Homo sapiens: one gene and its partner. The protein of the gene in region 2 binds, or shares a complex with, the protein of the main gene of each other region. Each region holds a gene or a part of one and is shown on either strand. Other genes may lie near its edges.

What was found.
Region 1: KIF11 (region 2) and RBM10 share a complex: the UniProt entries of both Homo sapiens proteins name them as parts of the large chromatin remodeling complex.

What each region holds. Positions count from the first base shown.
Region 1 is NC_000023.11:47,183,116-47,187,520, reverse strand, and holds the end of RBM10 (RNA-binding protein 10), read right to left. Parts: intron 2,467-4,405; coding exon 2,317-2,466; intron 2,220-2,316; coding exon 2,154-2,219; intron 2,080-2,153; coding exon 1,891-2,079; intron 1,806-1,890; coding exon 1,731-1,805; intron 1,457-1,730; coding exon 1,350-1,456; intron 1,264-1,349; coding exon 1,134-1,263; intron 1,048-1,133; coding exon 922-1,047; 3' UTR 708-921; downstream 1-707. UniProt on the Homo sapiens protein: Binds to ssRNA containing the consensus sequence 5'-AGGUAA-3'. May be involved in post-transcriptional processing, most probably in mRNA splicing. Binds to RNA homopolymers, with a preference for poly(G) and poly(U) and little for poly(A).
Region 2 is NC_000010.11:92,651,976-92,656,053, reverse strand, and holds the end of KIF11 (kinesin-like protein KIF11), read right to left. Parts: intron 2,390-4,078; coding exon 2,258-2,389; 3' UTR 659-2,257; downstream 1-658. UniProt on the Homo sapiens protein: Motor protein required for establishing a bipolar spindle and thus contributing to chromosome congression during mitosis. Required in non-mitotic cells for transport of secretory proteins from the Golgi complex to the cell surface.

The DNA of each region.
Region 1 (4,405 bases), on a different chromosome or scaffold from region 2:
TCTAGCACCATCCCCCTTTCACGCTGTGGCCCTCTGAGGCTTGGAAGAGGGCAGCCCCAGCGTCACGGTCCACTGTACCCAGAACCTCTGCCGAGAGCACAAGCACATACTTGGGAATCATGGGTTGCAGTGACTAGAGGGGTGGGGCACTGTGGTAACAACAGAGAAGGTAGGCCTGAATGGTTCTCAAAGGGCATCCCTGGGACCTGGCCTTGGATTTGCAGGCCAAGCTCCACCTCCACCCCTCTGTCATCAGCCTGTTGAGGGCTCTGGGCCAACTGGAACCTGAGTACCTCTTGTATTCTACTTGGAGATGCCTGAGGGCATTGTCTCCAGATCTAGGGATGGCAAAATGCAGTTTAGCCTTGGGACTGCAGGCTAAGTAAAGCCAGGGGGCAGCAAGGACAGGGGATGGGGGTTCCCAGTCCTAGCTCTGATCAGGGGGCGCTTCATGCCTGGTGGTGCTAGATTTCCTGGTACAACATAACCTGCTGGAACCAACAAGGGAGAGGGGCCATAACCAGGATATTATGGGTCGGGGTACAGGTCAGAACCCCATGTTCTAGTAGCCATTATGTTCCAGACACTGAATGCCACCACTGCCATCCACCTTGGCCTGATAAGGTCCCCTGTCCATCTGCTTGGGTCCCCGTGTCTGTATAGGCTATACAACTGTGCTAGAGCACGAGAAAGAGGAGAGGCCAACATGCAGACTTTTCAGCTTTTATTACAAAACAGGACGTGATCCCAGCCCAATTTTCCAACAAAAGTCACCACCTCAATTTGATTTGGTCAAGCCCTCTCTGGCTGGGGAGTGGGCTGGCCGACAAGAGCAAGGCCCCGTCCCAGCCATCCAACACTCTGTCCTTCCCTGCCCCAGGATGGACACCCAACATGTGGAGAAGTTGCTCTTGAAGCTGCTCACTGGGCCTCGTTGAAGCGGGTCACCATTGTCTTGTGCAGTGTCTCCTTGTAGGACTCGGTTGAGGTGACCCCGTAGGAGCTGCCCCGTGCACCCAGGCCGGAGCCCCGCACCCGTGTTTGGGCCTGTGTGAGGGAGGCAGGCTCTGTCAGGCTGGTGGGGGATGCTGTGAGGGGTGCTGGGGGATGGGACAGGACTGCCTGAGACTCACCTCGATAGGCGTTACAATGCCCTGCTTCTTGCGGCCCAGGCCGCTGCCCTCTTTCCAGCCCATGGCCTGCAGCATCCGACTGCCAATGTTGTCACTGCCCAGCCCGTCCCGAGTAGGCTGCTCGAAGTCTCTGCAGGGGCGGTGCACAGCATGAGTGGTCGGCCTGCCGGCCCCGGCCCCGGGCTCCAGACCCCCTCACCTGGCCCAGCCACTCACACAGAGGCTGTGGATATGCCGCCGTACTTCCTCCTCTTGGGCTCTGGCGGCTCGGGGATGCCATACTTTTCTCTGCGTTCAGCTGCACGGTCCCGGTACTTCATTTGCTGAAAGTTTGTATGTGTATGTGAATGTTGGGGAGCTGGTCTCTTTTCTCAGGCAACACAGGCATGGGGAGTGGGGTCCCACAGGGCATGCCATCTGGCTAATGAGGCTCAGGTCCTGAGGGTCAGGCCATCACAGGCACAAGCAGCCAGGATAGGAAAATGGGGAAGAAGGCTCACGGGGTTAACACGTGAGAAATTGAACTCCAGCTGCCTGAGGTGATGGGGACTTGGAAGGGACACAGGGGAGGGAGCCCAGGGTCAGGTCACACCTCACCTCCATGTCATTCTTCTCTAGTGCTTCTAGCTCGTTTTCTGACAAGTGGGCTCGCCGGTGAATCTCAAGGTTTTGCTGCAAGAGGGACAGGATGAGAAGTGAAGAGGATGAGCCTCAGTGGGCCAGGCCCCAGCATGCCCTGCCAACCATCCGCTGTTACCTTGTGGAGCCCTGAGAGCTGCTGGTGCCGGATGAGCGCCTCTTTGCTGGGGAACTGGCGTCGGCAGAGCAGACAGGCCAGCTTCTGCCAGTCGGTGAGCTTCTCCTCCCGCTCAGGGCCCCCACGCTCCTGCTCCTCCTCACTGTCACTCTCCCCGCTGTAGGCTGCCACCAGTCCTCGCGGAGGGCTCTGTAGAGGGTGAGGGTGGGCGGTCAGGCCTGGCCAGATCAGAGCCCCCGCCCCTCTCTGCCTTGGGCACTCACTGGGCGGTCGTCACTGGCCAATTTCGGGAGATCCATGCTGGTGTGCTGTCTCTCGGCTAGTGCTCCCTGGGGTGGAGGGACACAGAAATTCAGGGACTCCACAGAGGGCCCAAAGGAAGGACAAGATTGTGGGGCAGGGTGCAGGGGGGTGGCCCCAACACACCTTCTTCTCGAGGATGGCATAGCCAGCATCTGCAGTGGCTGACTCCCGCCTCTCGTCATCTCGCAGGGAGCTGATAGGCTGGAAGCTATTTTTGAAGTTTTCTTTTTGTTTGTTGAGACTGCGGGCCCAGCGTTCCATGTCCTTGGCAATCTGGGGGTGAGGGTGGAGGTGAGGTTCCCAGAACCCTCATGACCCTGGGGCTACTAACTCTATCTGCTGACCCACTGCCCTGCATCCTCAAACACGGGCCAGCCACTATCCCTAGTCCGAACCACTGCAGAAGGCTTCATCTGGCCTCTGGGCTACGGCTCCTGACCACCTTTCCCAGCAGAGCGCTCTTTCATGAAGTATAAGCCACTCCCACCCCCAAATACAATGTCCTTAAAACCCTTCCTTCGCCTCCCATCACACCAAGAATAAACCCAAACTCGCAACCACAGCCTGCAAGGCACTTGGCACCTGGCTACTCCTGACCTCATCACTGAACACACCCTGTGCCCCCACCCCCACTGGTTTGCAATGGTGAGGTGGCAGAAGCAGTGTGGACAGAGTGGCGGGCCCATCTGGGAGGCAGATGAGTGGAAGCTGAGGCAGAACAATCAGAAGGTGAGGGACACAGTAGTGCAAGTTCCTATTTTCTGTCACCAGTCACCAGTGCTTCTTGCCAAGCCCCTCTCTGGCTGTGTTCTCTGCTATGTTTTTTGTCCCTCAAAGTTCATGTGTCAGAAATGTAATCCCTAATGCAACAGTGTTCACAGGTGGAGCCTTTATCCCGGCTGAGTGCAGTGGCTCACACCTGTAATCCCAGCACTTTGGGAGGCCAAGGCGGGTGGATCACTTGAGGTCAGGAGTTTGAGACCAGCCTGGCTAACACAGTGAAACCCCAGCTCTACTAAAAAAATACAAAATTAGCTGGGCGTGGTGGTGGATGCCTGTAATCCCAGCTACTTGGAAGGCTGAGGCAGGAGAATTCCTTGAACCCGGGAGGCGGAGGCTGCAGTGTGCTGAGATTGCACCATTGCACTCCAGCCCAGGCAACAAGAGTGAAACTCCATCTCAAAAGATAAATTTAATCCCTGATGCAACAGTGTTGACAGGCAGGGCCTTTCAGAGGTGATTAGGTCACAAAGGCTCTGCCCTCCTCAAGAGATCGCGGCTGCTTTTTAAAGAAATTGTATAAGTTTATGGGGTAACAAGTGCTTTTGTAGCCAGGCGCGGTAGCTCATGCCTATAATCCCAGCACTTTGGGAGGCCGAGACAGACACATCACCTGAGGTCAGGAGTTTGAGACCAGCCTGGCCAACATGGCGAAAACCCGTCTCTACTAAAATTACAAAAAAATTAGCTGGGCATGGTGGCGGATGCCTGTAATCCCAGCTACTCGGGAGGCTGAGGGAGGAGAATTGCTTGAACCCAGGAGGTGGAGGCTGCAGTGATCCGAGATTGCACCACTGCACTCCAGCCTGGATGATAAGAGCGAAACTCCATCTCAAAAAAATAATAAATAAATAAATAAAATAAACAAGTGCTTTTGTTACATGCACAGATTGTATAGTGCTGAAGTCAGGGTTCTTAGAGCATCCATCAGCCAAATAATGTACATCATACCCATTAAGTAATTTTTCATCCTTCACCCCCTCCCATCTCCTCCACCTTTATATATATATAATATATATATATTTTGAGAAGGAGTCTCGTTCTTGTTGCCCAGGCTGGAGTGCAATGGCACGATCTCAGCTCACTGCAACCTCCGCCTCCTGGGTTCAAGTGATTCTCCTGCCTCAGCTTCCTGAGTAGCCGGGATTACAGGCGCCTGCCACCACGCCTGGCTAATTTTTGTATTTTTAGTAGAGACGGGGTTTCGCCATGTTGGCCAGGCTGGTCTCAAACTCCTGACCTCAGGTGATCTGCCCACCCCAGCCTCCCAAACTGCTGGGATTACAGGCATGAGCCACGGCTCCCGGCCCCCCTCCACCTTTTGAGTCTCCATTTAATGCCATCACTGAGTGGGTTCCAGATAAAAAGGGGGAGTTTGGCCCAATTTTCTCTTGCTCTCATGCATGCTCTCTTGCCCTTTGCCATGTTATGA
Region 2 (4,078 bases):
TTCTCCCTAGAAACCCAAGACCAGGACTCCACGCTGAGAATGTGTTCTGTGTCTTCAAGACTGTTGCAGAGCTGAGAATGGGGAAAGGGCAAGTAAAACACTGCCAAGCTTTCCTTCTTTCTAGGTTGCCTTTTTCTTGATTCAGCAAATGCTTGGTGCTGTAAACTATTTTCCTGGGTTCTGACAAAGTTGTTTCTGAATGTTTTTGCTTGATTTTTCAATGTTTCTGTGGAGGAAAAGGTCCTTGAAGCTACCTACTTGGCCATTTTTGCTGATGCTACTCTTGGTTACATTCTGAGGGCCCGACATTGTGTATGAAAATTGGTAGAGCTAATTTATGGTTCTGGATGTTAAAATTATCTGGAGATTTATTTTTGCTTCTGTGAGGCAGTGAAATTAGTTGCATCAGCATTCTCAGATAACTTAAACAGTCATGGAATGAGATGACTTAAAGCTGGACTTCAGGCTGTGTGAGGGCCTACTTCTCACTAACCTTGCACCTAGGATAGCCCCTTGGAGTGCAACTAAAAGCCTGCAAGTTTACTAGGCTCCTTCTTCTTTGGTGGTACCTGCATAGTTTATTTTGGGAATGTGAATGCAGCTTGCCTAACCCTCTAAATATACCCATTGCCAGATAAGAAATTATGGAGCAAGCAGGTTAATGTAGAAACCACATTTATTAACCATGGATTTACTGAGGGCAGTTTATTAGGTATTATCCATCGCTTATGCTGACATCTGATTTTGCAGAGAAATTATAGCCATTATTTTATTAAGATAATTCTACGAGATCAATTTAGTTTCTTGAAGTAGCATATATTCAATTCTTCAATAGGGTTTGGTTTAATTTAGCTATCAAAGTCAGATGTCTCTAAACTTTACACACTAAACTCATCGTGAGCAGAAAATTTATTCTTTGTACATATTCCTTCTGTTTTGGTTCTTCAAGCTGAAACATCTCAACTTCCAGAAATATGGTTGCCAGATCAAAAATACCAGAGTCCTAAGGGTTAAGATTTGAATCGAGAAAAAGATACATGTACACATTGTATTATATACAAACAAGCAACAACAAAAAGTTTCATCATGTAAACAAAAGAATATAAATTATAGACATAATTGGAAGTTTCAAACAGTCCTTAAATCATTGTGAGCTTCTCTAAAAGGCACAGGTCTTGGAGTGTGGGCACAGAGCCATTAGTCAGATGTCTGGGTGGTCTCCCATAATAGCAATGTATACTCTTAAGTGGGCTTTTTGTGAACTCTGTCAGGGTGAATGAGTTAGGCCTCTTAAAGGAATGAAATGCTTTCACATTTGGGGCAACAAGTGAAAAATACTGAAAGGAGGGATACAACTAGGGTTAGATTTATTGTTGACAGTGATTTTAGAAATAACCACTAAAAAGGTGTTAAAAGATTTCTAGATAAAATTCTGACTACTGAAAATAAGAAAGGATACCTTTTGTAGCTCTACAAATGGTTTGGTGAAAAATAAAAAGGGAGAAAGTGAGCCGAGGAGAAAGCGAAATAGGGAAGTCTAGGGAGGATGCAAGAAAATACACAAGTCATAGCAAGAAAAAAAACATGAGATGGTCCTTTCTAAGGACAGATGTTGGTGATATTTACCTATGTAAGCTCAAGCTGAGAAGAGTACAGTTCTTATATATTCATTACTTAATAATATACAAGAAAAATACTTTTCATTTGTTATAAAAGAACTACTTTATATGAAAACTAGAAATACGTATTTACATTGCAAATCCCAAATGAAACCCAATTTAATACAAAGTGAACTATAGGGATGACAGAAAAATGGGTAGATATCAAAATTCAACTGAATTTACAGTACTGCCTTATATCTTTTTTAAATTTTGTTTTTGAGACCGAGTCTTGCTCTGTTGCCCAGGCTGGAGTGTAGTGGTGTACCTTTGGCTCACTGCAACCCCGCTTCCTGGGTTCAAGTGATTCTCGTGCCTCAGCCTCCCCAGTAGCTGGGATTACAGGAGTGTGCCACCACGCCCGGCTAATTTTTAACAGAGACGAGGTTTTGCCACGTTGGCCAGGCTGGTCTCAAACTCCTGGGCTCAAGCAATCCACCCGCCTCAGCCTCCCAAAGTGCTGGGATTACAGGCATGAGCCACCGCGCCCGGCTGATATATATATTCTTTTAAAATCTATACACAAGGCTCAAGTTCTGGGGTTTCAGGTTTTATTTTTAAGTTTTCTTTAAAAATAAAATTGCCAACCCCCAAGTGAATTAAAGGTTGATCTGGGCTCGCAGAGGTAATCTGCTCTTTGTAACCAAGTGCTCTGTAGTTTCTTCCACTTTAGACCTCTCCAGTGTGTTAATGCCTCTGTTTTCTTTGTCTTTTCCATGTGATTTTTTATGCTGTGGATTTAAGGCGGGAAAATTAAGTCAATACAAAGTAACATTAGATACACATTAACTACACTCTATTTTCAAAGTTCTCTGGGTTATAGGCAAAAAAACTTAAGTGTAGAAAACCAAAAAAGGTTCAGCACAAGTTTGAGCCAACAATTTGGCAAGTAGCGCCAAATGCCTTCTTTATTTGATCACTAATGGAAGGAGTAGAGTGAAAGAAATATTAATTTTCTGTGTTATTTTCTAAGACATAGTTATAGATTTTACTCCAGGGTAGTGGTTCTCATCAGGGAGTGATTCTGCTGCCACAGGGGACATTTGGCAATGCTGAGAGACTTTTTTGGTGTTACAATCAGGGAGTGCTACTGGCTTTGAGTGAGTATTCACATAGTACACTGTTTTTCTTGTGTACCAACATAGTACAGTCCACAGGAAAGCCCATCACAACAAAGAATTATCCAGTTTAAAATGCCAATAGCACTGCTGTCAAGAAACCCTGCTCTAAGGAAACAAAGATTTGCTGTCATGCAGAAAAGCCAATTCTGTTTTAAGCAGAGAAACTGGTATATGGGCCACCTTAAAAACACTTTTACTTGTTTTTTAAAATTGTATTTTATTTTATTTGTAAAACCTATTTCATATTCCTCATTTGGAAGTTCTATTTCATTGGAATCCTACTTACCCATACAGAACATTAATGGACTGGTGACATTCATTGTACACTCAGTCATCAATGCTGAGACAAATTGTAAACCAACTTTTAAAGTTTTAAACGCAGAGAAAATCCCCACATCACACTGCTACTAGGGAAAAGATCATTTCTGGACTTCAGCTGAAGGTCTAAAACCCCATCCCAAACCCTTTCTGGTACTGTAGGGACTTCCTTGCCATAGCTGAATCACTAAGCCTAATTCAAAATGCCACAGATAATAATAATAAAACGATTTCTGACCAGGGATTAAGTAGTCACCAGGTTCTCTTATCCTTCCCCCTTTCCTAACTTTATAAGATAGAAGAAAAGGATGAAAACTGAAAGAAACATATTTATAGTTCTCTAATAGTAAGGAATAAAGCAAAAGGTGGCAAGAATTTGGGAATAAAATTGCCCAGAGGAAGACAGGGAGGAATTTATGAGAATCTGAGTTGGAACTTTGTTAACTGTTGAAAGCAGGGATGGAGAATCTTTAGACCTTAAGGGAAGGAGCTGTAGATCTATTAAAAAACAGTTACAGGCCGAGCGCGGTGGCTCACGCTTGTAATCCCAGCACTTTGGGAGGCCGAGGCGGGCGGATCACCTGAGGTCGGGAGTTCAAGATTAGCCTGACCAACATGGAGAAACCCCTTCTCTACTAAAAATACAATATTAGCCAGGTGTGGTGGTGCATGCCTGTAATCCCAGCTACTCGGGAGGATGAGGCAAGAGAATCGCTAGAACCCGGGAGGCGGAGATTGTGGTGAGCCAAGATCAGGCAATTGCACTCTGGCCTGGGCAACAAGAGCAAAACTCCGTCTCAAAAACAAAAAAACAAAACAAGACATACACACAAAAAAGGTACAAGCAGCCAGGCGCAGTGGTTCATGCCTGTAATCCTAGCATTTTGGGAGGCTGAGGTAGGAGGGCTGCTTGAGGCCAAGAGTTCAAGACCAGTCTGGCCAACATAGCAAGACCCTCTCTCTATATATATTTAAAAAAAA